Linked DNA regions of Homo sapiens: region 1 is linked to region 2. Evidence: fine-mapped expression QTL. A gene starts in region 2. The other region holds a variant in brackets. All regions are shown on one strand. Distances are between the middles of the regions.

Evidence for each region.
Region 1: its variant is fine-mapped to the expression of RSRC1 in whole blood (INTERVAL, PIP 0.94).

The regions. Positions count from the first base shown.
Region 1 is chr3:158,440,656-158,446,045 of GRCh38, reverse strand. The region is part of intron 6 of RSRC1 (arginine and serine rich coiled-coil 1); the gene reads right to left. Among named protein-coding and RNA genes, the nearest start is that of UC.134, 83 kb to the left of the region's middle. The variant A/T (reference allele first, on the strand shown) is at 3,203.
Region 2 is chr3:158,106,697-158,112,086 of GRCh38, reverse strand. RSRC1 (arginine and serine rich coiled-coil 1) reads right to left here and starts at 1,998. Exons shown (of 10, transcript NM_001271838.2): 1 at 1,864-1,998. RefSeq lists enhancers at 1,425-1,474, 1,336-1,835, 1,685-2,034, 1,836-2,337, 4,976-5,390.

The sequences.
Region 1 (5,390 bases), 330 kb before region 2:
TATGGTACTTTAGGGCGGTAGATCTCAAACTTCAGCATGTGTCAGCATCAAATGGAAAGTTTGCAAAACAGACTGACGGCTGAATATGGTCAAGATTTTGTTTTTTAAAAAAATCTCAAACTGTTTATTTAGAAACACAGAATTTTAAATATATTTATCCCAATGTGATTTTTTTGGTGAACCCATGAGTTACTCAGAAGAATGCTTTAAACTTTATTTATATTGTTTACATTGATGTTCTGATTTAATTTCATAAGGATCAAAGAATATAGTCTATTAATAATCATTGGCCTGTTTAGATTTGCTTTATTAAAAAATGGTCCATTTTGGAAATGTTTAATTGGTACTTGGAAAAACTGTGTAGGCATACTTCGTTTTTTTCGTTGTTGTTGTTGTTGTTATAAGTTCGAGGGTACATGTGCACAACATGCAGGTTTGTTACATATATATACATGTGCCATGTTGGTGTGCCGCACCCATTAACTCGTCATTTATGTTAGGTGTATCTCCTAATGCTGTCCCTCCCCGCTACCCCCACCCCACGACATGCCCCGGTGTGTGAGGTTCCCCTTCCTGTGAACAAGTGTTCTCATTGTTCAATTCCCACCTATGAGTGAGAACATGTGGTGTTTGGTTTTTTGTCCTTGCGATAGTTTGCTGAGAATGATGGTTTCCAGCTTCATCCATGTCCCTACAAAGGACATGAACTCACCCTTTTTTATGGCTGCATAGTATTTCATGGGGTGTATGTGCCACATTGTCTTAATCCAGTCTATCACTGATGGACATCTGGGTTTGTTCCAAGTCTTTGCTATTGTGAATAGTGCCGCAATAAACATACCCGTGCATATGTCTTTATAGTAGCATGATTTATATTCCTTTGGGTATACACCCAGTAATGGGATGGCTGGGTCAAATGGTATTTCTAGTTCTAGATCCTTGAGGAATCGCCACACTGTCTTTCACAATGGTTGAACTAGTTTACAGTCCCACCAACAGTGTAAAAGTGTTCCTATTTCTCCACATCCTCTCCAGCACCTGTTGTTTCCTGACTTTTTAATGATTGCCATTCTAACTGGTGTGAGATGGTATCTCATTGTGGTTTTGATTTGCATTTTTCTGATGGCCAGTGATGATGAGCATTTTTTCATGTGTCTTTTGGCTGCATAAATGTCTTCTTTTGAGAAGTGTCTGTTCATATCCTTCGCCCATTTGTTGATGGGGTTGTTTTTTTCTTGTAAATTTGTTTGAGTTCTTTGTAGATTCTGGATATTAGCCCTTTGTCAGATGAGTAGATTGCAAAAAATTTTCCTACTCTGCAGGTTGCCTGTTCACTCTGATGGTAGTTTCTTTTGCTGTGTAGAAGCTCTTTAGTTTAATTAGATCCCATTTGTCAATTTTGGCTTTTGTTGCCATTGCTTTTGCTGTTTTAGACATGAAGTCCTTGCCCATGCCTACGTCCTGAATGGTATTGCCTAGGTTTTCTTCTAGGGTTTTTATGGTTTTAGGTCTAATATTTAAGTCTTTAATCCATCTTGACTTACTTTTTGTATATGGTGTAAGGAAGCGATCCAGTTTCAGCCTTCTATATATGGCTAGCCAGTTTTCCCAGCACCATTTATTAAATAGGGAATCCTTTCCCCATTGCTTGTTTTTGTCAGGTTTGCCAAAGATCAGATGGTTGTAGATGTGTGGTATTATTTCTGAGGGTTCTGTTCTGTTCCATTGGTCTATATCTCTGTTTTGGTGCCAGTACCTTGCTGTTTTGGTTACTGTAGCGTTGTAGTATAGTTTGAAGTCAGGTAGTGTGATGCCTCCAGCTTTGTTCTTTTGGCTTAGGATTGTCTTGGCAATGTGGGCTCATTTTTGGCTCCATATGAAGTTTAAAGTAGTTTTTTCCAATTCTGTGAAGACACATTTTGGTAATTCTGACAATACTTTAAGCTTTTTAGCTATTATTACATCTGTTGATATCTGTCACCTGTGATCAGTGATTTTTGATGCTACTGCTGTGTTTTGGGATGCCACAAACCAGGCCCATATAGGGCAATTAACTTAATTGATAAGTGTATGTGTGTTTTCTGACTGTGCCACCAACTGGCTGTTCCTCTGTCTCTTGCCCTCTCCCTGTACCTCTCTGTTCCCTGAGACACAACAATACTGAAATAAGGCCCATCAGCAACCCTACAATAGCCTTTGAGTGTTCAAGTGAAAGGAAGAGCCACACATCTCTCACTTCATATGAAAAGCCAGAAATGACTAAGCTTAGTGAGAACGCATGTCAAAAGCTGAGATGAGGGAAAAGATAGGCCTCTTGTGCCAAATAGTGCAACACATTGTGAATGCAAAGGAAAAGTTCTTGATAGAAATTAAAAGTGCTACTCAAGTGAACACATAAATGGTAAGAAAGTGAAACATCCTTATTGCTGATAGGGACAAAGTTTGAGTGGTCTAGGTAGAAAATTAAACCAGCCATACCATTAAGCTTAGCCAAAAGCCTAATCCAGAGCAAAGTCCTAACTTTCTTAAATTCTGTGAAGGCTGACAGAGGTGAGGAAGCTGCTGAAGAAAAGTCTAAAGCTATCAGAAGTTGGCTTGTGAGGTTTAAGGAAAGAAGTAATCTTCATAACATAAAAGTGCAAGGTGAAGCAGCAATGCTGATGGAAAGGCTGCTGCAAGTGATCCAGAAGATCTAGCTAAGATCATTGATGAAGGCGGCTACGCTAAATGACAGATTTTCAATGCAGACAAAACCGCTTTCTAGGAAAGAAGATGCCATCTAGGATTGTCATAGGTAGAGAGAGGAAGTCAATGCCTGGTGTCAAAGCTTCAAAGGACAAGCTGACTCTCGTGTCAGGGGCTAACGCAGCTGGTGACTTTAAGCTTGAAGCCAGGGCTCATTTCTCATTCTAACAATCTAAGGGTCCTTAAGAATGATGCTAAATCTACTCTGCCTGTGCTCTATAAATGGAACAACAAAGCTTGGATAACAGCACAGCTGTTTATAGCATGGTTTATGATTATTTGAAGCCCACTGTTGAGATCTGTTGCTCAGAAAAAAAAGATTTCTTTTAAAATATTATTGCTTATTGACAGTATACCTGGTCACCCAAGAGCTTTGATGGAGACATACAAGAGGATTAATGCTGTTTTCACGCCTGCTAACAGAACATTCATTTTGCAGCCCACAGATCACAGAAAA[A/T]TTGACTTCCAAGTCTTACTGTTTAAGAAATACATTTTCTAGGGCTATGGCAGCTATAGCCCTATAAAATGTATTTCTTAAACAATAAGACTTGAAAGTCCTCTGATGGACTTCCAAAGTAAATGAAAACCTTCTGGAAAGGATTTTGCCATTCTAAATGCCATTAAGAACATTTGTGATTCCTGGGAGGAGGTCAAAATAGCAACATTAACAGGGGTTTGGAAGAAGTAGCTTCAAACCCCTCATGGATGATTTTGAAGGGCTCAAGACTTCAGTGGAGGATGTAACTGCAGTTTGTGGTAAAAATAGCAAGAGAACTAGAATTAGAAGTGGAGCATGAAGATGTGACTGAACCTGAAGGGATGAGAAATTGCTTCTTAAGTATTAACAAAAAAAATTGTTCCTTAGATGGAATATACTCCTGTTAAAGATGTTGGGGACATTGTTAAAAATGACAACAAATGATTTAGAGTATTATACAAAAACTTAGTTGATAAAGCAGCAACACAGTTTGAGAGGATTGACTCCAATGTTGAAAGAAATTCTACCGTGGGTAAAATGCTATCTAATAGCATTGCATGTTACAGAGAAATATTTTATGAAAGAGTCAATCATTGCAAACTTCACTGTCTTATTTTAAGAAACTGCCACAGCCATCCCAACCTTCAGCAACCGCCACCCTCATCAATGGGCAGCCATAAACATCAAGGTGAGACCCTCCTCACTAAAGGCTCAGATGACTTGTCAGCATGTTTTAGTAATAAAATATTTTTTAATTAAGTCATGTACATTGTTTTTTAGACAATGCTATTATACACTTAATAGACTACAGTACAGTATAAACATAACTTTTATATGCACTGGTAGGGAAATCAAAAAATTTGTGATTTGCATTACTGTGGCATTTGCTTTGTTGTGGTGGTCTGGAATCAAACCCACAGTATCTCTGAAGTATGCCTGTATATTCCCTAAATCTTGAGTTCAGGGTCCTTTGTATTCACTAGAGCATACTGTAAGTTTGTTGTTTAGTTTAATACTTCTCTCACCATGGTGACAAGATTCACAGTTTATCCTCACAATCGTGTCAATTTTGCTTTATGTATCCTGAAGTTGTGTTATCAGATGCACACAAGTTATAATTCTTCTACTGTATTGCTGTATTCTGAGATTTTGCATTTTTAACAAGTTCCATGTGATGCTAATGTTGCAGTTCTAGGTTCTACACTTTGAGAAGTATTACTTGAGAATAACAGAAGAGAATACACAAGTTTATTAGGAATTGGAGAGATTATCTGTTAAATAACACATCTTGTGACCCCAAATCTTAATCATGTTATTATGGGCCTCATGATCCAGGATGCAGGAATATTCTTGCTCCAAAAATAAAAAAAAAACCCTACTGATAGCACAATACCTTGGGTGTTTGGTTCTTTCTTTTGTTAATATCTTGTTGCCAATATATTTAAAAAAGTCTTTGTTTGTATTTTGCCAAGATAAGATCGTAGATCTTCAAAACGTTTTAGTAGACTTTGTCTCTTCAGCTCATCTGTTTAACCCTAGTACTCAATATATTGCTAAACAACAGATGCTTAATATATGACTCAATGAATACTGCCAAGAAGTCAGAAAGTAAAGATACACTTCATAACCCAGATTTAGAGAATCATAGAAATTGTCCTATCATTCCATTTGTTAACATTCCAACAGACTGTAGGAGAAGCAGACAGATACATTATTCTTTTTGGGCCATTTAATAACATTATTAAAAATTAAGACCTATAAGTTAAGCAGCTGAATGCTTATGTACGATTAATAAAAACATAAAACCATGCAAGAGATTTCACTTCAAACACCTGAAAGTGATTTCTCTAATATTTATTTTCTTTCATTTTTTTTCTTATGAGATGGAGTTTTGCTCATGTTGCCCAGGCTGGAATGCAATGGGGTGATCTCGGGTCTCTGCAAGCTCTGCCTCCTGGGTTCAAGCAATTCTCCTACCTCGGCCTCCCAAGTAGCTGGGATTACAGGCAGCGCCACCACACCCAGCTAATTTTGTATATTTATTAGAGATGGGGTTTCACCATGTTCGTCAGGTTGGTTTCAAACTCCTGACCTCAGGTGATCCACCCACCTCAGCCTCCCAAAGTGCTGGAATTACAGGCATGAGCCACTGCGCCCAACTGGTTTC
Region 2 (5,390 bases):
TCTAGTTCTTCCTGGTTGTAGCCTCGTGGTTGCAAAACTCACCCAACAACTCCCACTACAGAACTGAAGCCATGGCATGTAATGACTACAGGAGGAGATCAATTTACAGAAATATCTTAATGTAAAGTTCACGTGCCTGATTGAAGAGGTAAAGCCAACATGTGGTCATTCAAGAAAAGAGAACTCAAAGGACTACACAAGTAGTTCCTTTGTCCAGTTATTGATAAGGGTACAAGAAGCAGTTATCTCTTTCAGAAAACAGGCAATCAGTTTGAAGAACAAAGATTTCCAAAGGACATGATAGCTTATAATTACTTCTCCACTACTCACTCAGTATATCAAACTATAATTTTCTTGATTCTGGACACATGGCCAGAAAAAGTGAAAACAATGGTTATTTCAATGGGAAATCCACCTCAAAGAAGAAAAGTAAAACTGGGGTGAAAACTAACATATTAAGAAATCCATAAACAAGTACACAACTCTTTATCTCAAAAGAGATAAAGAATTCTGTCAAAACACTTCTCCCATCACAATTAAAAACTTGCAAGCATCTCTCTTTTTAAAAAAGCATGATCAATCATAGGAATTTATCCCCAATGGTTTGAACATGAAAGCAGGAAATACAACTATAGATCTACTATAAACAACCCGCTTTCAGAACTTTTCCAATTCATAACACCCCTCTTTGTGAGACTGGTTGAGTTGGCAAGGCCAATTAACAGAAGGTGCCAGCTGTTTTTGTCGTTTCAGATTCTGACATTTTTAGCCCTCTTATTGAAAAACATAAAGTGTTATATCACTTAGCATGAAATCTTTGCCTGCAAAGAAAGTGAATATTTATAAACTCTAAGACTAGAGAGGCTCTTAAAGGATACCTAGTTTCCCCCAAGGTTGCAACTGTCACACCTGCTCCAAATCTTAAACCTGGGAACTCTGCTTACCTCCTTCACTTAGAACTTTTATAATACATCTAAGTTCAAAGATGACAACTCGAATGCTTTCTTGTGACAACATAAGACATTTGAATTTATTTATCTACTACCTAGTTAGCTGGAACACAATTGGGTTACTGCTAATTCTGAAAGTGTAAAAAAATATTTTTTTGTTTAGGTTTCCAGTGTGCATTTAAAGATACACAACCTCTGAGAGAGAAATTACGTCAAGGTTAACCTAAAATCAAGAGCAGGCAACATGCCTTACGGTGCATTGTAACATCTTGCAAAAGTAAACAGAGCCATATGCTCTTGGTCACATGCCACCAGTACAGAAGTCAAAGGAATATATAGTGTGTTTAAGGCGAGCATATTTATATTTCAAGAGAGGAACATCTATTTCACCCTGCACCACTTCTCTCAGCAAGCCAGTGTGAGCCAGAAAGGGTAGGGCGGAATCAGAAAGAGAGCTGGATCTAAGGCAGGGACAGTGGAGTGGATGGGATAGAGGGCACCAGAATCCAGCCTCCCTCTTGCTCCACCCTACCTAGAGCTAGTGAGGAAGCGCCAGGCTTATATTGCAAGATGAGCCAGGAAACCCAAAAGCAGCTATGAAGAACCAGGAACGTGGGGCGAGGGGAGGAGTCGGCGAACTCTCCGACATGTCCTCAAGACAGAAGGCCAAGCTTGAGGCCTGCGGCCACCCACCCACCCTACAGCCACCAGCCTTGACCCAAGGAGTCCGGAGCCTCCCAGGTGCGGGACGCATGCGCACGGTGACACTGCGCACGCCCCGAGGCCGCAGCCCACCCTCCACAGACACTGAGCCGCAAACTGCGCCAGGCCCCGCGTCGCCTCTCGCCGGATCAGGGCCTCGGAGCTCCGCAGCCACGGCTGCCGCTCCCCAGGCCCTGGTCGTGGGCATCACCTGGGTCCAGACCTTTGGGCTCACACCTCCCGTTGACGTGCAAGCGCCGCAGTCCCTGAGTCGTTTCTTTAGATCAGGGCGCCGCCGGCGTCCACCGAACTTGCTTCAGTTTAAGCTCAGCGCCTTCCTGGTTCTAGCGCCAGGCAGCTTCAGCCGAGATATCGAGTGCATCGATGGACGCTGCCAGGCGCTGGGAATGCCGAGGGAGTAGATTGTAACGCGGCCGATTTTTTGTTTGGCGTTTGTTTTGCGTGCCTGTTTATTTTGATTTTATTGTTACCAAAAGCAATAAAGGTGGGACTGGAGAGTGTTATTGTCTTAGTAGTCGTCGTTATCGTCATGGGTAATCAGTAAACAAATCTGCATCGTAGGAAGTTTTGTTTATGACACCTACCCGAAACAAAATTGGTTATCTCACGCTGGGGGAGGGGGAAACTCGCCCAACGATAATAAATCATGGGAGTGTGTCTGTATAGAGTCGTGTGTGATTAAATTGTAATGATTTATTTGCAAAAATGCATTAAAAGTCGGTGTTTCTTCTGCCCTGAAGGTGAAGGCACTCACAAGTTGAGTGCAAATTAGTTTCTCAGATTAAAGTAACTGGTTAGTAGAGGAATAGGAGAGAGCTGCCTGAGGCGAGGCGGGGAGCGGTTTCTTCTGAAAGAGAACTCAAATTTATAGGTGTGTGGAGTTTTTTTATTTAAACCAATAGAAATTAAAGAGACTCAGCATTTTCTGTAATTCATACTACATTACTTATTTTTCCTTACATGGAAATTTTTTCCTCATTTACTCTTAAGCAAAGCTAAAAAGATAAATAAATTGTTGGCCTGGGTTTTGGTCGACTATGAGAATCAACTCATTCACCACTGCTAGATAACCAAGCTACAGTTTTCCGCAGACATTTGAGATGGTGAAAAATCACCTCCACAATATATTTTTCGTAAATAATGTACCTTAACTAGCCAGTTTTGAGGCACCGTTTTAAAACTTAACTACTACAACACTACGTGTATATTTTAAATAATTCAAGAGCTGGGGAAACCCTTGGGGTCCTGAATTTTATTGGAACCTGTGCATCTGTCCACAGACTGTCAGCTGAGCTTTACCATAAATGCTTTTTTTTTTTTTTAAACAAAAACTGTATTTTGAAATGCCCTGTTTCTGGAAGATATTTGCTGTTTAATGAAACAACATCATTGGAACTTTGTGAGCATTTATTAATGTATGAATTTAAAACCTTGAAATATTTTTTAAAGTAACTTCCCTTAGGCCAGTGGAAATCTGTGGTCAGACACTAAAGATTTCTCATGGCTCCATCTGTTATCAACACTACTATTCCTAAATATGCAATGAGCCAAAAAGCTGAGATCATGGGAAAATTTATTGGTTTGAATTACACAATAGTTGTGTCTGTGACTTCCCTGATTACCTTCAAAGTGGTCATCTTTCCCTCAAGCTCAGTAGATGAAATATGACTTCAAACCTAAAAGTCATGTACTTAAAAAGGCAAACAAGTAGCTGGTGGGTCTCCTGATTCCTTAACCGACTTCTAACAGTGGTTATTTTTGAGTTATTTGTGAATATGTATTTAACACCTCAGTTTGAGAGCACCTTGAGCACCGTATCCTCTTAGCTCTCCCTATTACTGGCCCTTCTGCTAAATAATCTTAAAAACAGATTTTCATAAAGGACTAAAGTTGTATGATTATTTTCCTCTGATAATATCAGAAAGTAGTTACAAAGAGTAACCCAAGACTCAATGTGAAATTGTTTCTAAATTCGTATAACTTTGAAACTTTGTCCCTTTTGTGGTGTAACAAAACAAAAGCAAGTACTGATAACAATGTATTCATACCTAAAAGCTATAGCTGCGGAAAAATTATAGACATTAGCTCTCCTAAAAGTGGCAAAAAATGAAATGTTTTAAAAAGGGAAAACAACGTTTCTAAAAAGCATGATATACATAATCCTTAAACTCACCAAACATGAACATTTTAATGTGAGTATTGTAGTATAACATAAGGTTATATCCAGCTTCTATCTACATCTATTTGAGAAACACTAATATATTAAGTTATAATTGTGTTCTCTTTTTGCAAGTGTTTCAGGTTGTTTTGACGGAACTTCTTAAATTATCTGCTAATTTGTTTTGATGCCTTAACCAATATACGGAAGATATACATATTAATGTTCTGTAATTCCTCTTATTTTTACTAAGAGTATTAGATCCAAAATAATGATCAAGTTACCTTTAACTTCCAGAAAGTCTGCATTAATATTCAGAGTACTTGAAAATGTCCCCTAAGCCACACTTAGAGGTATATTTGTTTACACACTTAAATATAACATCATATGTAAATATTCTTTTGTGAGTATGTATTTGCATAGCCACACTTCTCACAGCAAGCCCTGTCCGGCACAATACAGACAAATGACTCAGGAATATAGATGTTCCTCTAACGTAACAAACCGTTCCGATGAAAATAGCCCAGAAATAGAATTTTAAATCGTAAGCGGGGTGGTGGGGGGGGTAGGCAGAGAGACCTTTACTCCTGGCGAGCGTCTCTTTTTTAGCTCTCCGTAATAAATGAAATTAGAGGGGGTACAAACTTAACGTCGATTTTTTTTTCAGACTCGAAGAGGGATAATCTCTTGTTTTTCAAATTAGTAAATAAACTCGGATGTTTCCCAAGATGCTAAAGAAGAAGTCCTGTAATTCACCATAGAGGGGTCCGAGTGCAGAGAGTAAGGGAGAAGGGTGGGAGTTCTGAGACCTCAGAGAGGAAACGAACGAAGTCGAGCTGTCCTTGACCGGGCGCTAAGGAAACACTTTAAAATGAGATCTGTCAGCTAACAGCTGCTGGGGAAACTTGTTAAATCGACTGGTCCCTTTTAGCGGGGTCTGTCCATAGAGGAGTCAGCTGGGCTCCAGGACACGAATAATAGAGCGAATAACACGGACCGAGGGGCGAGGAGCTTGGAGAAGACCCGGACTCAGCCTGCCTGCGAGCCGGGAAGCTCCTAAGAGAAGCTGCGCGGGTCGGAGAAGGTGCAGGCAACCCTGTCTCTGGGCAGGATGATGCTGGGCGGTGGAGCTACGGCCGGCAGGGGTGGGATTGTGAGGGAGAGGCGGGGATGCAGAATTGGGATGCGGGGTCAGGATGCGGGAATGGGATGCGGGGCCTGTAAACTGCTGGGCGGTTGATGCAGGGCAGGGACGAGGAAAAGCAATGCGAAGCTGAGCATTGCGAGGCACCCTGACTCGAAGCAAGGCTGTAGGGAAGGATGCAGTGTCGGGATACCTGACTGACTCTAAGAGCTGCGCACTTGTCAGTTTCCTCTTGGCCCCACCCCGCGGGGTCTATCCAGCTCCCCAGTGTTTAACTAAGTCGTGACACCAACGCAAAATCCACGCCTAATTAAATTAATTAGGGATTCTTGTCAATCCTGGATTAATGGCCAAGAGCACAGGCGGCAGGGGCTATCTGAAAACCTGAGCGGCCGGGGACCGGCCTTCTCTCCCC